2 separate regions of the Homo sapiens genome follow, and region 1 is linked to region 2. The links come from fine-mapping of genetic effects on gene expression. A gene starts in region 2. The other region holds a variant in brackets. All regions are shown on one strand. Distances are between the middles of the regions.

Region 1 (9,485 bases), 100 kb after region 2:
AATCACACTTCAGTATACACTCAATCTCTGTACTAAAGAGAATAAACATTTATAAACAATTAGGGCAGGCCCAAAAAATTTAAGATAAGGTCCACTGTATCCCAAAGTCATCTGAGCCTCACTAAGAAATTTCTCAGGAAGCCAGGAACATTTTCTTTACCCCTCTGTCAGAGGGCATTGGCTCTCCGTTCTCCTCTGAAGGCCTCCCCAAGCCATGAGAAGGCAGGAAGCACAGCCTCTGAAAAGCAAGAACACAGGAGACCTTCCTTGCTTTAAGGCTGGCCTGGTCTTTACCTGCTCTTGGGAGTGACCATTCCCCTCTTACCACCTGTGAAGGAGAGAAAATCGCCCAAATGCTCAAGGTGGTGATTCAGAGCATGGAAGTGGAAGGGCTTGGGGGCCAGTGGTGCATAAAGGGAATGGGCCATCAGCACTGTCATACTGTTTCAGAATTAAATATGCAGACCAGAAGGCTCTATACACAAGAGATGGCCAGCTGCTGGTGGGAGATCCTGTTGCAGACAACTGCTGTGCAGGTGAGCTTCTGGGGCCTCCACCCCATGCTCCATCTGCCATAGGCCCTCCCTTCTCTTCTTCCCTTTCCTCCCCAGCAGAGGGTCAGCAGCTGCCCCCAGTGACAGTGAGAAGGGCCAGAGAGCAGCTGTGGCCTCTCCTAGCGAGGGGACATGACTCCTGCAGAAGTCCTGGCTCACCGTCCAGTCTGCATGCAGGGCCAGGCCAGGTGTGCCCATGTCCAGTTCCTTCCTGCCTGAGCCTTTACCTGCCAAGAGCCTGCAACATGGGGTTCCCTTGTCCCTTGACTCTTCTCTCTCTTCCCTCCTAGAGAAGATCTGCATACTTCCTAACAGAGGCTTGGCCCGCACCAAGGTCCCCATTTTCCTGGGGATCCAGGGAGGGAGCCGCTGCCTGGCATGTGTGGAGACAGAAGAGGGGCCTTCCCTACAGCTGGAGGTGAGAGGCCTCTCCCCATTCTAGGGGACACTGCAGACCTGGCCTGACCCCTGGGATGCTCTGGCATCTTTGTGCCTATCTGTGGATTCCCAGCCAGGTCCACATGTCCTACTTCCTCAGGTTTCCACCATCTCCCTCTGCACCTAGCACCAAGACCCTTGCCCTCTAGAATCTGCAGAAGGCAGTCCCTTGGGTAAAAACCAGCCCTGTCAGGTCCTTTTTTGGCCAAGCCCCAGAGGCCTCCAGGGCTAACACCTCCATCAGCACTCTCATTCTGCAGCCATCCACCTTGCCCCCACAGGATGTGAACATTGAGGAACTGTACAAAGGTGGTGAAGAGGCCACACGCTTCACCTTCTTCCAGAGCAGCTCAGGCTCCGCCTTCAGGCTTGAGGCTGCTGCCTGGCCTGGCTGGTTCCTGTGTGGCCCGGCAGAGCCCCAGCAGCCAGTACAGCTCACCAAGGAGAGTGAGCCCTCAGCCCGTACCAAGTTTTACTTTGAACAGAGCTGGTAGGGAGACAGGAAACTGCGTTTTAGCCTTGTGCCCCCAAACCAAGCTCATCCTGCTCAGGGTCTATGGTAGGCAGAATAATGTCCCCCGAAATATGTCCACATCCTAATCCCAAGATCTGTGCATATGTTACCATACATGTCCAAAGAGGTTTTGCAAATGTGATTATGTTAAGGATCTTGAAATGAGGAGACAATCCTGGGTTATCCTTGTGGGCTCAGTTTAATCACAAGAAGGAGGCAGGAAGGGAGAGTCAGAGAGAGAATGGAAGATACCATGCTTCTAATTTTGAAGATGGAGTGAGGGGCCTTGAGCCAACAAATGCAGGTGTTTTTAGAAGGTGGAAAAGCCAAGGGAACGGATTCTCCTCTAGAGTCTCCGGAAGGAACACAGCTCTTGACACATGGATTTCAGCTCAGTGACACCCATTTCAGACTTCTGACCTCCACAACTATAAAATAATAAACTTGTGTTATTGTAAACCTCTAAGTTTGTGGTAACTTGCTATAGCAGCCATAGAAAACTACTACAGAGCCTTATTCGACCCTGTGTCCAGTGTTTGATGCAAGAGACTTGGTGAGTTCTTAGAAGGCTACCTGCAGCTTCTCCTCCAGTCCATCTGCTATGGAGCCTCTAGAAACAACCAAGAAGCCCCAGGCAGAACTCAGTGTCCTCTGCACAGGGACAAAGCCCTGGGCTGCTTACAACTTAAATTCTAGCTCAAGTCTTGTGATTTTCTACCAGATACTTCACAGTGAATCCACAATTCCGTGGTTGACTGTTGGTACAGTCCGCTATCTGCCAGGTGCTTAAGTAGTAGCAAGGGCCAGACAATATGTGTGTCCTGGATGTGTTGAGTTTAAGGTTACAGTGGAGTCTCTAAGTTGAGGTGATTTGATATAGCTGGGAGTACAGGGCTGGAATTCAGCTGAGAGTTTGCAATTGGAATTCATACTCATCCTCAGAGCTCAAACGCTTCTCTGTTTCATGGAAAATATTTGACTGGGATCAAGCTAGAGCAGAAAGCCCATGGTATCAGGACTCAGAGAAGGCACAGGCTGCTGGCGCTGTCCCTCTGTTGTATAACTACTTAACATTCACCTAGCGTGTTCTGAGTTCCAACCATGGGGCAGCAATTTTAAGAACATTCTGTTGTCATCCTCAGAATGACTCTTCAAGGCAAGCATTTTCACCTCCATTTGACAGATGAGGAAACTGGACTAAGAGAAGTGAAATAACTTGCTGAAGGTCATATGGGCTATCAGTGTTGGAGCTCAAGATAAAACTTGGTGCAGCTGACCTCAATGCCATTTTGCAAATTTTTATTCCACTTAAGGAGCTGAGGATAGAATGGTGAATAAAACCAAACTTCCTTGTAGCTGATAATTGAAAGGGAGAAACACTAAACAAGCAAATAAACAAACAAGAAAACAGAAAGGGCACTTTTCATGATTAGAAGGTGAGGGCAGCAGGTATTCAATGGAAATATTAGATGGGGGGGTCAGGGGAGGTTTTTTTTTTTTGTTGTTGTTGTTGTTTTTTTACTTTTTTGAAGAGGTAACATCTGCACTGAGGTTATGGACAGGAAGGAACTGTGACTAGAAATAATCAAGGCAAAAGAGTAGCAAATGTGTTGGCCCTGAGACAGAAAGGAGCTGGTATGTTCAAGTAACAGTAGAAGGCTGGGGTGGGGGCTGGAGCCTGGAGAGCAAGGGAGGAGTAGGCAGTGAGCAAGACCAGCAGGGTTGGGTCATGTGTGGCCTTGAAGGCAAAGTACAGGCTTCCAAGTATTAAGTGTGACGGGAGCTACACGATAGGCTCTGATAATGTTTAGGTTCTTTCTCTGAGCTGCCTCTCCACAGCCTGTATGTGCCCCGGGAAATTGATCACCTGGCTGGCCCATTATAACTATGTGTTTACATGGTGGGACTCAATTTTATGTCAGCTGTGGCCAGAACAGCTGCTGGTAAATGCAGAAGAGGCTGAGTAAATGCAAAATCTTAAACAAGTTAATGGATAATCACACTTGATTCCTATTCCTCCTCCTCCTCCTCCCCTTCTTCTTCTTCTTCTTCCTCTTCTTCTTCTTCCTCTTCTTCCTCCTCTCCTCCTCCTCTTCCTCCTCTTCTTCTTCCTCCTCCTCCTCCTTCTTCTCCTTCTCCTCCTCCTCCTCCTTCTCCTCCTCCTCCTCCTCCTCCTCAGGACAGGGTCTTGCTCTATCACCCAGGCTGGAGTACAGTGGTGCAATCATGGCTCACTGCAGCCTTGACCTCCTGGATCAAGCCATTCTCTGCCTCAGCCTCTTGAGTAGCTGGGACCACAGGCATGCATCACCATGCCCAGCTAGGTTTTTTTTAATTTTTTGTAGAGACTGGCTCTCGTCATGTTGCCCAGGCTGGTCTTGAACTCCTGGGCTCAGGTGATCTTCCCACCTCAGCCACCCAAAGTGTTGGGATTACAGGTGTGAGCTGCTACATCTGGCCAATCACTTGGTTCTTATGGGACATTCATCATACTGTGTGAGAAGAGCTATGGTACCAGGTAGAGACACCATTGTAGCCTAGAGGTGGAGCTGGCAGGGAGGGCTGGGCAGGGCTTCACAGAAGAAAGAGCATATAATCTGGGCCTCAGAGAAAAAGCAGGTGTTTTCCAGGCAGAGAACGCAGGGATGGGCATCCCAGGCAGAAAAACTGCTCAGGAAGGTGTGATGATGGAGAAGAGCTCCCAGCACATCTGAGGTGAGTCATCAATGTGGCTGGGACCCAGGGCTTGGACTGAGGAGTGGCTGCAAATTCACATGAGAAGATGGGTGGCTCCTGATTGCTAATGCCTTGTGAAGGAGTTTTTATCTGGGAGGCCCCAAGGAATCATCCAGGTATTTCAGGCAGGACCCAGATTTTAATCCTGGGCCCCTCAGATCAGCACTGGGCCAACACAGATGCTACTGGGTCCTCAGCTCTTCTCAGCCACCCCCTCCCTCCCCTTCTCCCTCCCTGACTTCTGTTTAGCACTGCCCCGGGGTCAGCTTCCATGCTGTGATTTCACAGTCAGCCTGACCCCTGCTTCATCTTCCCTGACCAGTTCATCACCTTCATGCATGTGTTGAAAGACAAACTTTGGCATATTAAAATTTTAAGGAGTTTATTTGAGCAGAGAATGATTCATGAATCACAAGGTGCCAAATTGCAAGTGATTCAGGGCTCCACCCAGGGGCTACCGGAAAACC[A/T]TTTATAAGTTGTTCAGGAAGCAAAAGGAAGAAAAAAATTCATTGGTTAAGTGGAAAATCCTTAGTTGCAGGTTAGTCGGCGGTTCCTGATTGGCTAAGCTTAAGTTTCGTTTTCTTAGTCAATGACCATTCACTCTGGGTTGGGTTTTAGTTTACTTAGGCAGGAACCCAACACGCTGGAGTCATCTCAGCCTAATACCTTCCCAATTAATTATTTTAACACATGGTAACTCATTTCTGCTGGCCCTTCCCTTGTGAACTGTGCCCATGGACCACCCAGGCAAATGCAGGCCTCCTCCTACTTACTAGTGGTGCTGTTCCAAGTTGAATCATGTTCTCTATATAACTAAAAAAAATTTTCACATGTAAAATATGCCAATTCTCTAACAGTGCACAGAAGAGGAAGAGGACATAAAGACTTAGAAGACATGTCTCTATGACTGAAGGACACATAGTGCAGATGGGAAAACCAGACCTTGTGAATAAAAGCTCATATTTATTGACTGCAAGACACTCCAAATAGCACTTAGAATCAAATTCTGCAGGACTGTGGTAGAAATAGTGATGGGACTTTCTGGCACTAGGGTTTAAAAGTAAGGAATGGAGGCAATTTCTGACAGGTGCAGTTCAGCGATGCCAAGAGTATTCTTCTCCCACGCCCCAAGGCTCATTCCTTAAATTCCTTCTCCTCCCTAGAAACCACACCAAAGTCTTCACTCCAAAACCTAACCAGGCTAGAGGGTTATTATTATGTGAATTCTAGGGAGAGGTACACTTTAGGTCTTATCCACTATTTACATCTCAGAATGAACTGGTAGGTCCAGAGAGAGAGCAAACAGGCAATTAAACACAGTGTGGCCAGCTTTCGGTCAGGTAGCACCAGGAGCAGGGTGGGTGGGGAGGGTGAATGTGTGTGTCTGTATGTGCATGACGTGTCCATGTATGTGTATGTGTGTGCTGTGTGTGCATACGTGCTTACAAGAGACTCCAGATGTAGGCAGCAGTTGATTCACAGGGGGCCTAGTCTTTGTTCCAAGAAGCTATGGAACAACTTCACACAAGAGGGCGATGAACCCAGGGTCTCCTATAACCTGTGTTTCCTAAGTCATTCCACCAGGATTCAGAATCTAGTCACTCTTCCCTTTGACCCAAATTTTCATCTCGCGATCCTAGGCCCACCTCTCGCATCACAATAGCCCCTAGGAATACCGGCTCAAAACATTGTACAGAAAACTCCGCAGGACACACAACTCATGTCAGTTCTAGGGAAATCTAAACTCAGATTTAAGGAGGAAACAGTAAAAGTGAAGGAAAATGCAGACAACTTTAATGGATACTAACTTTTCCTTGATATAATTCTCTAAAATATACAGCTACTTCATAAATGAACTTGACAGAAACAAGTGTAATGAATATAAACAGTAAAGTTAACATCTTGGACTGAAGCACTGGCATTCGGTTTACCTGACCTTATTTCTGGTTGGATTTTACATTTGCATAACTAAAAGGGTTCACCAGAATTCTACCAAAACACAGTCTATCCCCAGAGCAGATTCCAATCTCCGCCCTCAAAGGCACAGACTCCACGCTATCTAGAGGCTTGATCCCCCTGCCCATTTCTGAGGCTGGGAGCCTGCAGTGTGGCCTTTGGGCTAAAGATGGCGACAGAGATCAATGTTGGCGCTGCCTTTTTGGGGCTAGGTTCTGAATGAGCTCTAACATTTAATTCTTCAAATACTTAGCAGCTACTGTGTGTCAGCCCTTGTGCCTCAAATCCCCGCCTCACTTACAGTAGATGCATCCTTCCACGCAATGCGTGAGAGTAGAACTGGATCCTGTGATGACTTCAGGAAGTCCGGGTGTCCATTCTGTTGGGTAACAATTTTTGTTAGCTCCCCCTTGTCACGAGGGACACAGCCCCTGCTCTCTAGGAGTTTGGAGCTTAGGAGGGAAGGTAGATATTAGACACATACTCATTTCGACATTTTTCCCACCTATGTGAAGGAGCATCACACGAATGCTTGATCCCTTCTCCCCATGACAGAGACGTTGCTGTGAATCTGTCTCCTGTACACTCATTCCCTCCAATTCCCTTGGATGTTCTTGCCCAGGCTCTGGTCACAGAATTGGGTGACAAAGGATGCTGGGAGCCTTGAGTTCTAGCAGAGGCTCTTCCATACTGGAATATTTCTCACAGACATTTTCTGAAGGTCCATAGTCACAGGACCCATGATACAAAAAATAGCACTGGTTATGTAAGTTTGTCTGCATAAAGGACAGCAGACGTAGGTATCAGCTAGTTATGCATTTTGTAGACTGGTTCCAGTGCACACATTCCAATGAGTGCTCATAGGTTTATGTGAGAAAATGTGTTATTTTTGATACCTTCTTCCACATGCCTCTCCCTGTTCACACCCTCTGCTTCAGACACTGGTCTCCTCACAATTCTCCAAAGACACACTCTAGGCACGATGCTACTCCAGAGCTCCAGCAGTAGCCTTGTGTTTTGAACACTTGTTCCCCAATTACCTGCCTGGCTTGTTTCCTCAGTGAGGCCTACGCTGGTTACCCCCGTGAAAACTGCAATATGCACCCCCTCAAATCTCAGCACCCTTAGATTACCTATGGTACTATCACATTCTAATACACTCTATAATTTATTTTTTATTTACTGTACTTTTTTTCCTTTATCCTCCACTAGAATGCAAGATCCACGGGCAGAGGATTTTCTTTTTGCCTTGTTTATGTATTACCAGCATGTACAAGCATTTATGACGTGTCAAGCACTCAGCAACATTTGCTGAATGAAGAAAAGAACTCAAATAGGATTCCCAAAAGGGTCCTACTTAGAGGTCATGCTCTGCAGAGACTAGCACCAGGGCCCCTGTCCAGATTTATTAGGAAAGACTGTGGCATCAGGTGGGAGTAGTGGGAAGAGGGTCTAGTCTCCAGAAGGAGGGCTGGTGAGGGGTGGACAGGATATCAGGGTTTCCAGTCAATATCTGAATCACTTTGCATGGTGTCTCAGTTATCTATTGCTGAGTAACGAACCAACCCACAATGCAGTGATTTAAAACATCAGTGATTCATTATTCCTTCTGATTCTGTGAGTTGACTAGGTGGTTCCTCTGCTGATCTTGCCAGGGCTCTGTTGCACTCAGCTGGAGGCTCAACTCAGCTGGAAAGTCCAAGATAGTCTCTCCCATGTCTGGCTGTTGGTGCTGGCTGTTGGTTGGGGGCCTTGGCTATTCATGTGTCCTCCCATCCTCCAGTAAACTGGAATGACTTTCTTACATGGCTATCTTAGTGTTGCTTCTCAAAAAGGGAAAGGTAGAAGCTGCAAATGCTCTTGAGGCCTAGGGTCCAAAACTCACATTTGTCAGGAAGGACTGTGGCAGTGGGTGGGAGTAGTGGAGAAAGGGTCTAGTCCCCAGAAGTGGAGCTGGTGAGGGTGGATGGGATACTGGGGCTCCCAGCCAATGTCAGAAGCACTTTGTCATAACCTGCCTCATGTTATTCACTCCTAGCATAGCCTGTTGGTCTAAGCAAGTCCCAAGGCCAGCCCTGATTTATGGAGACGTGGGTAGAGAAATGGATTCTTCCTCTGAAGGGGAAGATCTGCAAAGAATCTGTGCCCAAAGTCACTGTAAACAAATGGAAGAGGAGGGGGTAAAGCACAGGCTGACTGATTCGTGAATGTGCACTCCTGACCATCATGCTATGCTGCCTCCATGAGAAACTCTGACATGGCTGTGTAGCCAGCAATTCATTCATTCATTCTTTCATCAAATGTTACTGACCACCTGCAATGTTCAAGTGCAGAACTGGGCAGGGGGCATACAGAATTGAATGGGGTCCAAGATTTGGTGCTCCTAAGGAAGATGAGAAAGCCAGCCTTAGCCAAGCTCTCTCAAATCTTCTTCATCTTGCTCTGTGGTTTTAATGCTAACTAGGAACCCAAGGGAGAGGGTCAGCCCTTGGAATGTCTTCCAGAGGAAGGTGAAGCCCAGCTGGAGTCCCAGTCTGTGGCAAGTAAACTGGGAGAAGCAAGGACAGGCTTAAGGCTTAGCTTCTGTGCCAGGGGCTATGTGTAAGGTTTGACTTCCTAGCCTTCTCAGGTTCACACACTACTCCTCATTCCTTCATGCCCTCCCAAGCCCTGAATTCAATGTTGGGCAACAGTGAGAGCTTAATCAATGGCTTTGAATGATTCTTAGGCAAGCTGAGAGGAATATCAACAAATGTTTTATCCGATATTCCCAAGAGTAGCCTGACCCAAATCCAAGATTATCTCCATGGCCTGCCCCTTTACATCAACTCAGAGGATGCTGCTGACATTATATATTTGCATGCTTACTATGTTAAAAATGTACTGTCAGGAAACCAGAGGCTCTCAAATTATCTTAACCACTTATATCAGGATCAGCTGAAATGCTAGTTAAAAATGAAGATTTCTGGGACTCTACCCCTTACTGGCTAATACAAAATTGCAAAATTGTGGAGCTGAGCCTAGAAAGCTGAATTTCTAGGCAGCCTGTGGGTTATTCTTATGAAGAGTCTGAGGATCTCCAGCCTCTACAGAACGTCACTTCTTCCACGTCCATTTCTGCCACTGATGCTGAATAGGCAGAATCCCTCCTTACTACCACCACCTGTAACATGTGCTTGTCACATGAGTTAAAAATAAAGCCCCCTGTTGTAAGTCGCAAGTCAGACCCACAGAATTTAGATCCCAATCAGGGAACGTGACGCTTGGTACGTTTATGTTCTTATGAC
Region 2 (9,485 bases):
AACATGTCTTGTTACTCCAGGGAATCTCTTGCTTCTTTCATGTCTGGTAGTTTCAGTCAATGGAAAATGGAAGCACCCAATAAAGAAGAGCACTGAGGACCTGGATTGCACAGAAATGGAGGCTTGACTCAACTGTAAGGTGAAGAACAGCATCCAGCAGAGGTGCTGGCAAATGTAAGCGGAACATGGGATGGATGGTAGAAGAAGGTAGCTATGATTACCAAACTTGGCTTTGGTGAGTAACTACAGAATCAAGGAGTCTCGATGTTCTATTTAACTGTTTGCTCCCTATCCCTGCCTTTTTCTCTAACCACCTTACATGAGTAACACTGGGGGTGGCTTTTAAAAGTTTCAGATAGGAGTATGACTACATTGACCTAATGTGATGATTCAGAATTTCACCTGTGAGAGGGAACACAAATGTCTTACCCAAGAAAGAAGAATATGGTCCTGAGGGGCAAGAGGCATGGACTATGCTGGATAACTTCCAATTACCTTTCCAAATCCACCCTCCATGCTTCTCTCCTGGCTGTCTGCCCAGGAGGCTGACCTGCATCTGTGGGCTTCCTTGCCTTCTGGCTTCTAGTTGCCCTTGGCTTCTGGGTTTGGCCAAGGGGGTGTAGTGAAAGGAACTTAGAGAATGGGAATGTCATGTCGGGTTAAAATCAGCGTACTTGTGCTAACTTGAATGGGAGTGGGGGTGAGGGAAAGAGGTTTCACAGTGACTCAATGGCCAATTAGATGCTCATGAATTCATGGCTTATTGCAAGGCTTTCATACACTAGCAATCATGCAAATATATTTTGCAGGGGGTTGGAGAGAGGTGGTTCTCATTGCTCTTTTCCCGGTAGGGCTCCTGGTGGCGATGCCAGATGGAAAAAAGGACTCAGAGTTCTCATGAGCAGAGCTTCTACAGGCATCTCGCCATGGCCAGTTTCTTTGTGGTTTTTATGGCCCTGCACAGGAGTGTTCATAGCCATGATCTCAGCAGCCCTTGGCTTTGCTTTCTTGTCCAGTCTTGGGAGTGCCTGACCACAGCAGGTATATGTAACATTATCCCCTCAGATGCATATGTTTATCACTTTGAGGGGTCAGCAATTTCACTGTATAGTATCATGCTGTACAGGTTTGTACAGGAGCAATAGGCTGTACAATATAGCCTAGGTGTGTGGTAGGCTGTGCCTACACTCTGTGATGTTTGCACTGTGAAACGTCATTAAGCCATGCATGACTGTATTCCCTGGTTCCTTTCCCATGGGGTCACTGCAGGCTATTTTTCTTGATGAAGGTCACAGCTCCTATTAGGTGGCCTTGTTCACAAAGTTCTTTCTCTCTCTGCGTTCTAGTAACCTCCTCTTGTCCTTTCAGGCCTAGGGGCGGCCAGAGGTATACCCCACTTTTAGTAGCCTGAGTTTCTGTACTATGCCTTGGGATTTCCCTGTACTCTACCCATATCTTTATAAATAACTCCTTCATGACATTTACCTCCAATTGCCAAATTTGAACATGTCATCTGTTTTTTTGTTAGCACCCCAATTGACACAGCATGGCTCCCAAGTTGGCCCAAATAGACTAGAAAGTCTTTGATAGTTGTAGGGGAGATATTCCTTTTTTCTACAAGATGTGAATGACTGAGCATACAGTTCTGATTGACACAGGCAGCCCTCTAATGGCCTTGGAGAAACCTGGCCTTAAGTTATGAATTAAACTTAAGACCAGAGAGAATTTTTAAAAATACTGGTCCTTGCTCACCTTATACAACTATCAGGTCAGCAACTCTGATAATTAATAATCCTAGACTTCCAATTATGTAACCTAGTAAATATTTTTATTGTTTTAGCCACTTGAATAGGATTTTTCAGGTTTCGAAGCTGAAAATAACTTAAATTGATAGACTCTTATAAGTACACATATGGGGCCAAGCGTAAACACATTATCATTTTTAATAGCCTCTACAAAATTGCTTTCCAAAAAGTCTGCAATGATTCACACGGCCATCCATGTGGTGAGTGAATCTATTGTCTCACACTATTGCCTACTATCTTTTTAATCTGTGCCTTCCTAATGGGTGGAAACTGAATCTCAGTATTGCTTTGATTTGCATCTTGCTAATTACCAGTGTGGTTTACTATAATTACTTATATTTATTGGACATTTATATTTTCTACTCAGTGAAATACTTTTTACGTCAATTGCTCATTTTTCTATGGAATTATTTGCACTTTTCCTGCTGCTTAGTAAGAATTATTTATAAACTTTGGATATTAATTATTTGTTAGATGTGTTACAAATATTTTATCTTGGGTAGTCTGTCTTTTTAAATTCATTTCATGATGTGTTTTGTCCAAAATTCTAAAATTTGGGTGATATTCAATTTATCATCTTTTTTTTTTTATATGGATTTTGCACTTTGTGTGATTTGGGGCAAAGAAGGCTAAGGGTTCTCTGTCATTTGGCTCTTTGTCTAGGAATTTCAAACTCTAGGCATTTAACCTGGACCCCTTTCTCAGGAGTTGCACTATGTGCTGTCTAATTAAGGCTTTTTATTGCTTTAGTTCTTTGTTGTTGTTGCACATAAATGACAATTTAACCAATAACTGTTTTAAATTTAGAGAAATATGCCTTTACAATAGTCCTATATGGTTTGGTTCTTTAGTCTTAACTCTTTTAATGTTTCTATTTATTACTGCCATTTTGATGTGTAGCTTTGGGGTTATTTTTGTTACTCTGTCCTTCATTTAAATAGCGTGTTGGCCTATGTGCCAAAGTCTGGGGTTTCATAGAAACCAGCTTCAGGAAGATGTAATGGATCAGCTCATAGGAAGCAAGTCTTTGATAATGGGCTTGGGCTATGTGGAGGAGCAGAGGCTTTCGGCCATGTCCATGCACATCATTCCATCTACGTTGGGTAAAGGCTTTACCACAGAGCCTATGCCAAGAGCTTCCTTGGCATTTTCCCAAGTCCACTAGAGTACAAATGGCCCCACACTGGTCTCTGTGGTTCATGGTACACACCATGTTGCCCCACCAATTTAAGCGAGATGAATGCCAACTTCTTTCCAGTGGCAATCTTCAGGCCAGGTTGCCAGCCTGCTTGTAGATAGCCCTTGATAGGTAATAGGCCACATGGCTTTGGTCCTCTTTGGGGGCCCCAAGGAGGACCTATGACTCCAGCAGAGAGCTCTGCATTTGGAGTCCGGAGTTATAGATTCTAAGTTTAATTTTACTACTAAGGTGATTTTTTTTATGGTTGGCAATGGTGGGGGCTGAATAACCTTTACTGCTCCATGGCTCCCTCTGCTTTGTTATGATTGTGTGCCTGGTTTCATGAAAAAGGTGTTGTAGAGATTCTAGAGATTGTAGTGGTGGTCAGTAATCAAGTTCTCTTACCCTACCTGCATTTCATTGATATTCCCTCAACTTAATAAGGTAATGAGCATGTTAAGTGAACAAACTAGTAGCAGGGCTTATTACCAAATGAATGTAGATTGACAGTGTCATAGAGCTTGGAAATTAGAATCTGGACTAAGTGTTTTCTTAAAATCATTTTCATATCTAGGGAATTTGGCCTTGTCAGTACTTATGGTAATTAAATTCAAGCCACACTTAATGATAAGCATCATTGTCATTGTTCTCCATGATAATAAATCGTTGATAATAAATAAAACAATCAATGGTAATAAATAAAATATAGCAACGCTATGTTCTTTACTTTTTATAACCAGAATCAATATTGATGGTTTTCTCAAGTACAGCCAGGGTATCATGTAATTATAACATCCATCCCTTCCACTTTAAGATAAACGTTCGGGGCCATTTCTTCAGTAGATGTGATCTCTGCTCTTTACTGATCAACCCCAGTGATTCAGTTCTCCCCTTTTATCATCATCACTCCTACTCCCTCCAATTTCTCTGATACTTATTCACACTAACAGTTAAACTAGGGACTTCAGGATGGATGCTGAGTGCTGGGAATTCTAGGAAGGGCTGGATTCTCTGAGTGCTTGGAATCTATTGAAGGGTCAGGACCAAGTGGAATGAGGGCGGAGGCTGAAGAGGACACATGTCACCCTCTTTTATAGTTTTTGCAACCTTCATCTGGGCGTGGGAAGTTCTAGCTGTACCCACAGGCTTTTGAACCAAAGAAAATTCAGCTGTTAGAGCTGTGTCCTGTGAGTCCTCTGAGCATCCTCTTCTTGACCCCTCCCCTCCACCTTCATGCTCCAAGCATTGACCAGACTGTACTCTCTTTTCAGAGGTCTGAGCATCAATTTGGCAGAGAACGCCTCACCTCCGACTCATATCTGGGGATAAGTCCTACAAAAGCGCTCCTTTGAGACCTAGGTTCTTTTGTTCCCTTTTGTTTCCTTCCTGTAGTTGTTACTATCTGAGATACCACAGCAATCCCTTAATCTTCTTTGGCTTTCCAACACACGTGTATCTAGTTCCTTTTATTCAATTCCCTTTGTTTGCAATTCCTAGCATGGATTCTGCTTTCAGAGGGATCCCAGTTGGAAATTCAGGCTTAAGGGATTTGGGGGGTCAAATGATGGGAATTTTAGATGCTGTTTTGTGGTGAACATCCCAAGAAAGGAGTTATGTTGACTGATGTGTAATGGAGGGGATTTTTAACAGGGCAATGGAGACTCAAGTGAGGTGGCACTGGCTCAGGTTGACTTTGAACAAAAGTGCACCTGGCATTACCACACTCTTTCCTAGGGTCACAGAAACACTGGAAGCCAAAAGTGATAGAATTGGGGCCATGGCAGGAAAGGACTGTGTTCTTCCAAGGCCAGAAAGGAGATTAGGGTGAAAAGTAAGAGACGTTGAGTCAGGAGACTCTTTGCAGGGCTGGGAAGAGGGGCTCATGGATGAGCTTATCTGGAAGGTTCTGTCTCATTCTTTGTGCTTTTCTTCCTTATAGATGGGTAAACCTGAAGCTGTTAGTGCTTCAAGTCTGTCTCCTAAAACTCACTTCACTCTAGTAGTTAACTTATACCTCAGTAAATTTTTAGGCTTGGCTACAGCAGATAGGATGGGGTGTATAAACAAGATATAAAAATAACTATTACCACTGATCAGGAACCTAGGGCAGAGGGTGGGGGATAAGCTGGCATCTGGGGCTCAGATTTGGGAGAAATCGCTGCCCACCTCTTTACTTCCTTAGGCAGTTCTGGAGTCCACTGCATTTTGAGGGTACCTGAAACTAGGATTGCCTCAGTTAAAAGACCAGTCTGCATAGTCCCTGTGGCTCCCCATGTGGATGGAGCTGAAAGAGTGTTAGGTAGGGGAGCTCTACTGCCTGGCTTTCCATTCAGGTGTGGCCTTAGGTGGGGTAGTTGAGAAATGCCACAGGGACCTTGCCTGAGACGTGTGGCTAATTTTGCTCTTACAGGATGCCTTTAGCCTGACTGCAGAGGGCAAGGCTCCCAGTCCCAGGAGATGGAGTCCCTGACATGAGAGTGCCTGGCATTTCCAGTTCTAGCTCTAGAATGACATGACAGGAGAGCTGAACTCTGGGAAATTCCCTTAGTTTCCCCTTTATGAGAAACCTAGGATCTGTCATCAACCTCATTTCCTTGTGGTTGATTTTGTGCGGATTGGCTCAACACTTATTTCTCAGCGAGCCCGGACAGGTGATACTTGTGCTAATTCTGTGATTTCTTCCTCCGAGCCTCACAGGATCTTCTGGTAGGAGGAGCTGGTTTTCTTTCATGTCATACGTTTCTCATGCCCCACCCAGGAAGCTGGAGCCTCCTTCTCTGCTCATCCAGATAAATGATCCAGGCTCCATTAGAACCCATCACTGACCTTGGAAGCTGCTGGAGCCACGATTCAGTCCCCTGGACTGTAGATAAAGACCCTTTCTTGCCAGGTATAGTCAATAGCTGGAAAACCTCTTCTCCCTCCCTCTGGAGCCTTTCCTCTCATCTGTGCTTTGGGCTTAATGAAGGGAAGGGCCACATCAGGCTGGCTCTGTGCTTTGTCCTATGTGTGGCTGCTTCTTACTGGGGAGTTGCTGGGATCCTGGCAGAGTGGCCCTGGCATGGGACCCTCCCCTGCTCCTAGGCAAAAACAATGCCGATGAAGGGGTGGAGGCTTCAGAGAAGAGGAGTCAGGGCATCAGGTGCCTGTGGGTTATTTAAGGTCAAATTTTATGCCTGGCCTTCGAACTCCTAGGGGAGACACTACCATACTATCTGGATCTCCAGGTGGAGGAAAATTCTACCTGTTCTCCCTTTGCTGATGCTTCCTTCAAGTTTCGTCCCAGATGTGGCTCAGAACTTCTGCCCAGAGCTTCGTGTCAGGCCAGGTTTCCCAGCTCCCTGTCTAGAATGAGGGCCTGTGGAGCTAGTGTCCTGGAAGGTCTTGGAAACATCTCTTGTGGTTCATCTGTTCTATGTCTGCTTTCACAGGTGCTGAGACAACCACACTATGAGAGGCACTCCAGGAGACGCTGATGGTGGAGGAAGGGCCGTCTATCAATCAAGTGAATCAAATGCTGTTGGGATGGGGCTCTGGAGGCTTAGGCCCTCTGCACTCACGCTATCTCCTGTGGAAGCCCCAGCCTTCTCTGCTCCTCTCTGTACACTGCCCTTCCCACCTGGTGCTGCCCACCTACCACTGGGCCCTGGGCTTCTGGAGGGTGGGAGCTATTGCTTAGTCACTGATCCAGCTCCAGTCCCCAGCACCGGGGCCAAGCACAGAGTAGGCACAAAAGAGGGTAGCTGGGCCTTGGCACACAGGTTCTGTGAGACTGCTCATTGCCCTCTGTCTTGATAGTTTGCCCTCTTAAACCAGTGACTTCCCTTGGTAGCCCTTGCCTTCCTCACCAGAGCTCACAACTTCACTAGAAAGAAAGGCTAGGCTGATGGGTGATGTGAGTGCTGTCAGTTTGGGGATGCAAACCCCACACCTTCCTTACAAAATGGCCTGGGTTAGATACTTTTCTCCTGGGTCTAGTAAAGCAGCCTTGATTATAATATTTCTTCATTTTTTTCTCTATCCCAAAATCAGTGTGTAAACCTATTACTGGGACTATTAATGATTTGAATCAGCAAGTGTGGACCCTTCAGGGTCAGAACCTTGTGGCAGTTCCACGAAGTGACAGTGTGACCCCAGGTGAGTGGTCACCCTGTGCCTTCCCCACTGTTTGCACTGCTGTGGCTGGGAAGCTGGCATCAGCCTTTTGTAAAAGTGTGACTTTACAATGGGGCCCACCAGGAGTGGGGAGAATTTCACACCTAATTGGGAAGAGAAGTCAGGGAGAACTTTGGGTTCCACTAAGATGAAGAAGCCAGAGATGGTGGAGGAGCCTCCAAGGGAATAGGAAAGCTGCTGTCAGTCATCTGAAGCCCTGTCTTATGGAAGACTAGTAGCTTGTTCTGCATGACTTCAGGGTGTCCTAAAATGACTAAATGGGTGAATACCACAGAAAGGCAGGTTTCAGCATCACATTGGGAAAAACTTGCAAAAGGGACCAAGCTCTCCAAGAATCAGAGGGGCTGCTTGATGTAGGAGCTCCCCATCTCCATGTGCTCAAGCAGAGGCGTGAGAATCTCAAGAGCATACTCTGTTGTCTGCTTAGCTCTCTGTGTTTGCTCATTTACTAGGGCAGTGATTGGCACATGGTATGAATGAATGAATGAATGAATGAATATGGGGGTTGGCCATTTGGTGGGTCTAGTTGGGATTACACTCTTCAGCTCTCTTCCAGATCCACTTGAGGATACTGCCCTGCTAAATCAAATAATCTTTCTGACTTCAAAAGGAAACTGATACCATCTCTCCTCTTATCTTTACAGTCACTGTTGCTGTTATCACATGCAAGTATCCAGAGGCTCTTGAGCAAGGCAGAGGGGATCCCATTTATTTGGGAATCCAGAATCCAGAAATGTGTTTGTATTGTGAGAAGGTTGGAGAACAGCCCACATTGCAGCTAAAAGTGAGTAGCTAAGAAAAATATTTAAAAAGCCTTTCCTTTTAGAAGTGTTTGGTTGAATACCTAATTTTAGAATTAAAAAAGAAATAGTCTCATCTTCCTAAGCATATTTATTCCCAGCCTCTTTTAAGTTATGTGCATGCAATACACTTTTCTTTTTATTCTGGCTGTCAGTAGTTAAGGTCCTTGTTTTGCTTTTTTTTTTTCCAAGCCAAACTGCATCCAGCTTTATTAAAGATACTTTCCATAAACATTCATGGTATTTCAGGCAGGATATGGGCAGACAATTGTTAAGAGTATGCAGCAAACTTCAAACTCCCTTGTTCAAAGGACTACCAAAAATCAGAAAGCCACTATAAAACTCAATGAAGTCTTCATCTGATGCTCTGAACAGGGAGAGTTTAGAGTGAGAGTTGACATTTCACATTTAGCATGTGGTTTAAACTTTTCACAAGCCAACCCTGACTTTCAGGAAGTGAAATGAAAATGGTAGAATTTATCTGAAGATCCACGATCTAGAAACAGAACCACTGCTCTTTTGACAGGTGCCATCTCAGTGGCATCACTGGAAAGTCCAGAGTGCCTGACATACTGGTAACCAATGATTGAGGGCCAGGTCCCAACAGATGTCTGGCTTAAAGGAGTTAAATCTATGCTGAAAGATGGAAAGGGAGAAGAGGACATAAAAATGAATTTATTTTCCATACCACAAGGCTTTTCTGCCAAGGTGGCCATGTGTGTCAAAGTCAGAGAATCCCTCCTCCTGGGAGCCAAGAGGAACTCTCTCAAAACTAGAAGGGAAAGGTGTTTTCCCCACATCGATCCAGCTTTGGAGACATTCTATTAGTGACATATGCCCCTTCCCCTAAAAACAACAATGAAGTGTTCTGGGTGCTAACAACATAGCTTAAAAAGAAAAGTAAAACAAAATTCTGCATTTTTATAAAACTTGATAAAAAATAGTTTTTCAAACTGTACAGTCACCAGAAGTACACAGTTATCAAAAATGCACACACTACACTTGGCATCTGCAGCACCTTCAGCTTTCTGTGCCTTCCCTGTTTTGGCATCTCTATTTTCTGCAGAGTTATTCCCCTCCTTGCCAGCATCAGCTTTTCCCTTTTTCCCTTTGGGTACCTTCTCTCCCTTCTTTGCAGGGGCATTTTTAGGCTTGGCCTCTGGATTTGGAGGAGCAGGTTTAGCAGACAACTTTGCGGGCCTTCTCTGTGGTTCGTCCTTCACCTTGGCTTATCTCCTTCAGCATCCCCTTCAGCCTTTCTCCTGGGCATGGTGGTGGCCACCCCAGCGGGATATAGGCACTGGATGCAGGATGCAGCATTGTGCGGGTTTTGGTCAGTCTGGGGGCTGTTCTTGCCTCTTCTTCACACTGCTCTGTCTTTCTTAACCTTTGATATATTCTTGGCCATCATTTCTTCAAGTATATTCTCACCCTTATTTTCCTTTTGGAATTCCTATTCATCCATCGTTGGAAGTTATGAATCTCACTTCAATATCTCACGATATCTCATCTAATTTTTTATAC

Which allele goes with the higher level. Positions count from the first base shown, and alleles are read on the strand shown. Sizes are in standard deviations (SD) of each study's normalised expression.
For the expression in monocytes after LPS of the gene that starts at base 5,803 in region 2, allele A in region 1 goes with a higher level than allele T (moderate effect, 0.63 SD a copy in Quach 2016).

Evidence for each region.
Region 1: its variant is fine-mapped to the expression of IL36G in monocytes after LPS (Quach 2016, PIP 0.95).

What each region holds. Positions count from the first base shown.
Region 1 is chr2:113,073,879-113,083,363 of GRCh38, forward strand. It overlaps IL1F10 (interleukin 1 family member 10), which reads left to right. Exons shown (of 5, transcript NM_173161.3): 3 at 451-536; 4 at 845-972; 5 at 1,274-1,965. The coding sequence ends at 1,486. Among named protein-coding and RNA genes, the nearest start is that of IL1F10, 11 kb to the left of the region's middle. RefSeq lists an enhancer at 3,992-5,191. The variant A/T (reference allele first, on the strand shown) is at 4,710.
Region 2 is chr2:112,972,204-112,981,688 of GRCh38, forward strand. It overlaps IL36G (interleukin 36 gamma), which reads left to right and starts at 5,803. Exons shown (of 5, transcript NM_019618.4): 1 at 5,803-5,875; 2 at 6,417-6,490; 3 at 7,018-7,122; 4 at 7,806-7,945. The coding sequence starts at 6,436. It also overlaps the pseudogene HMGN2P23.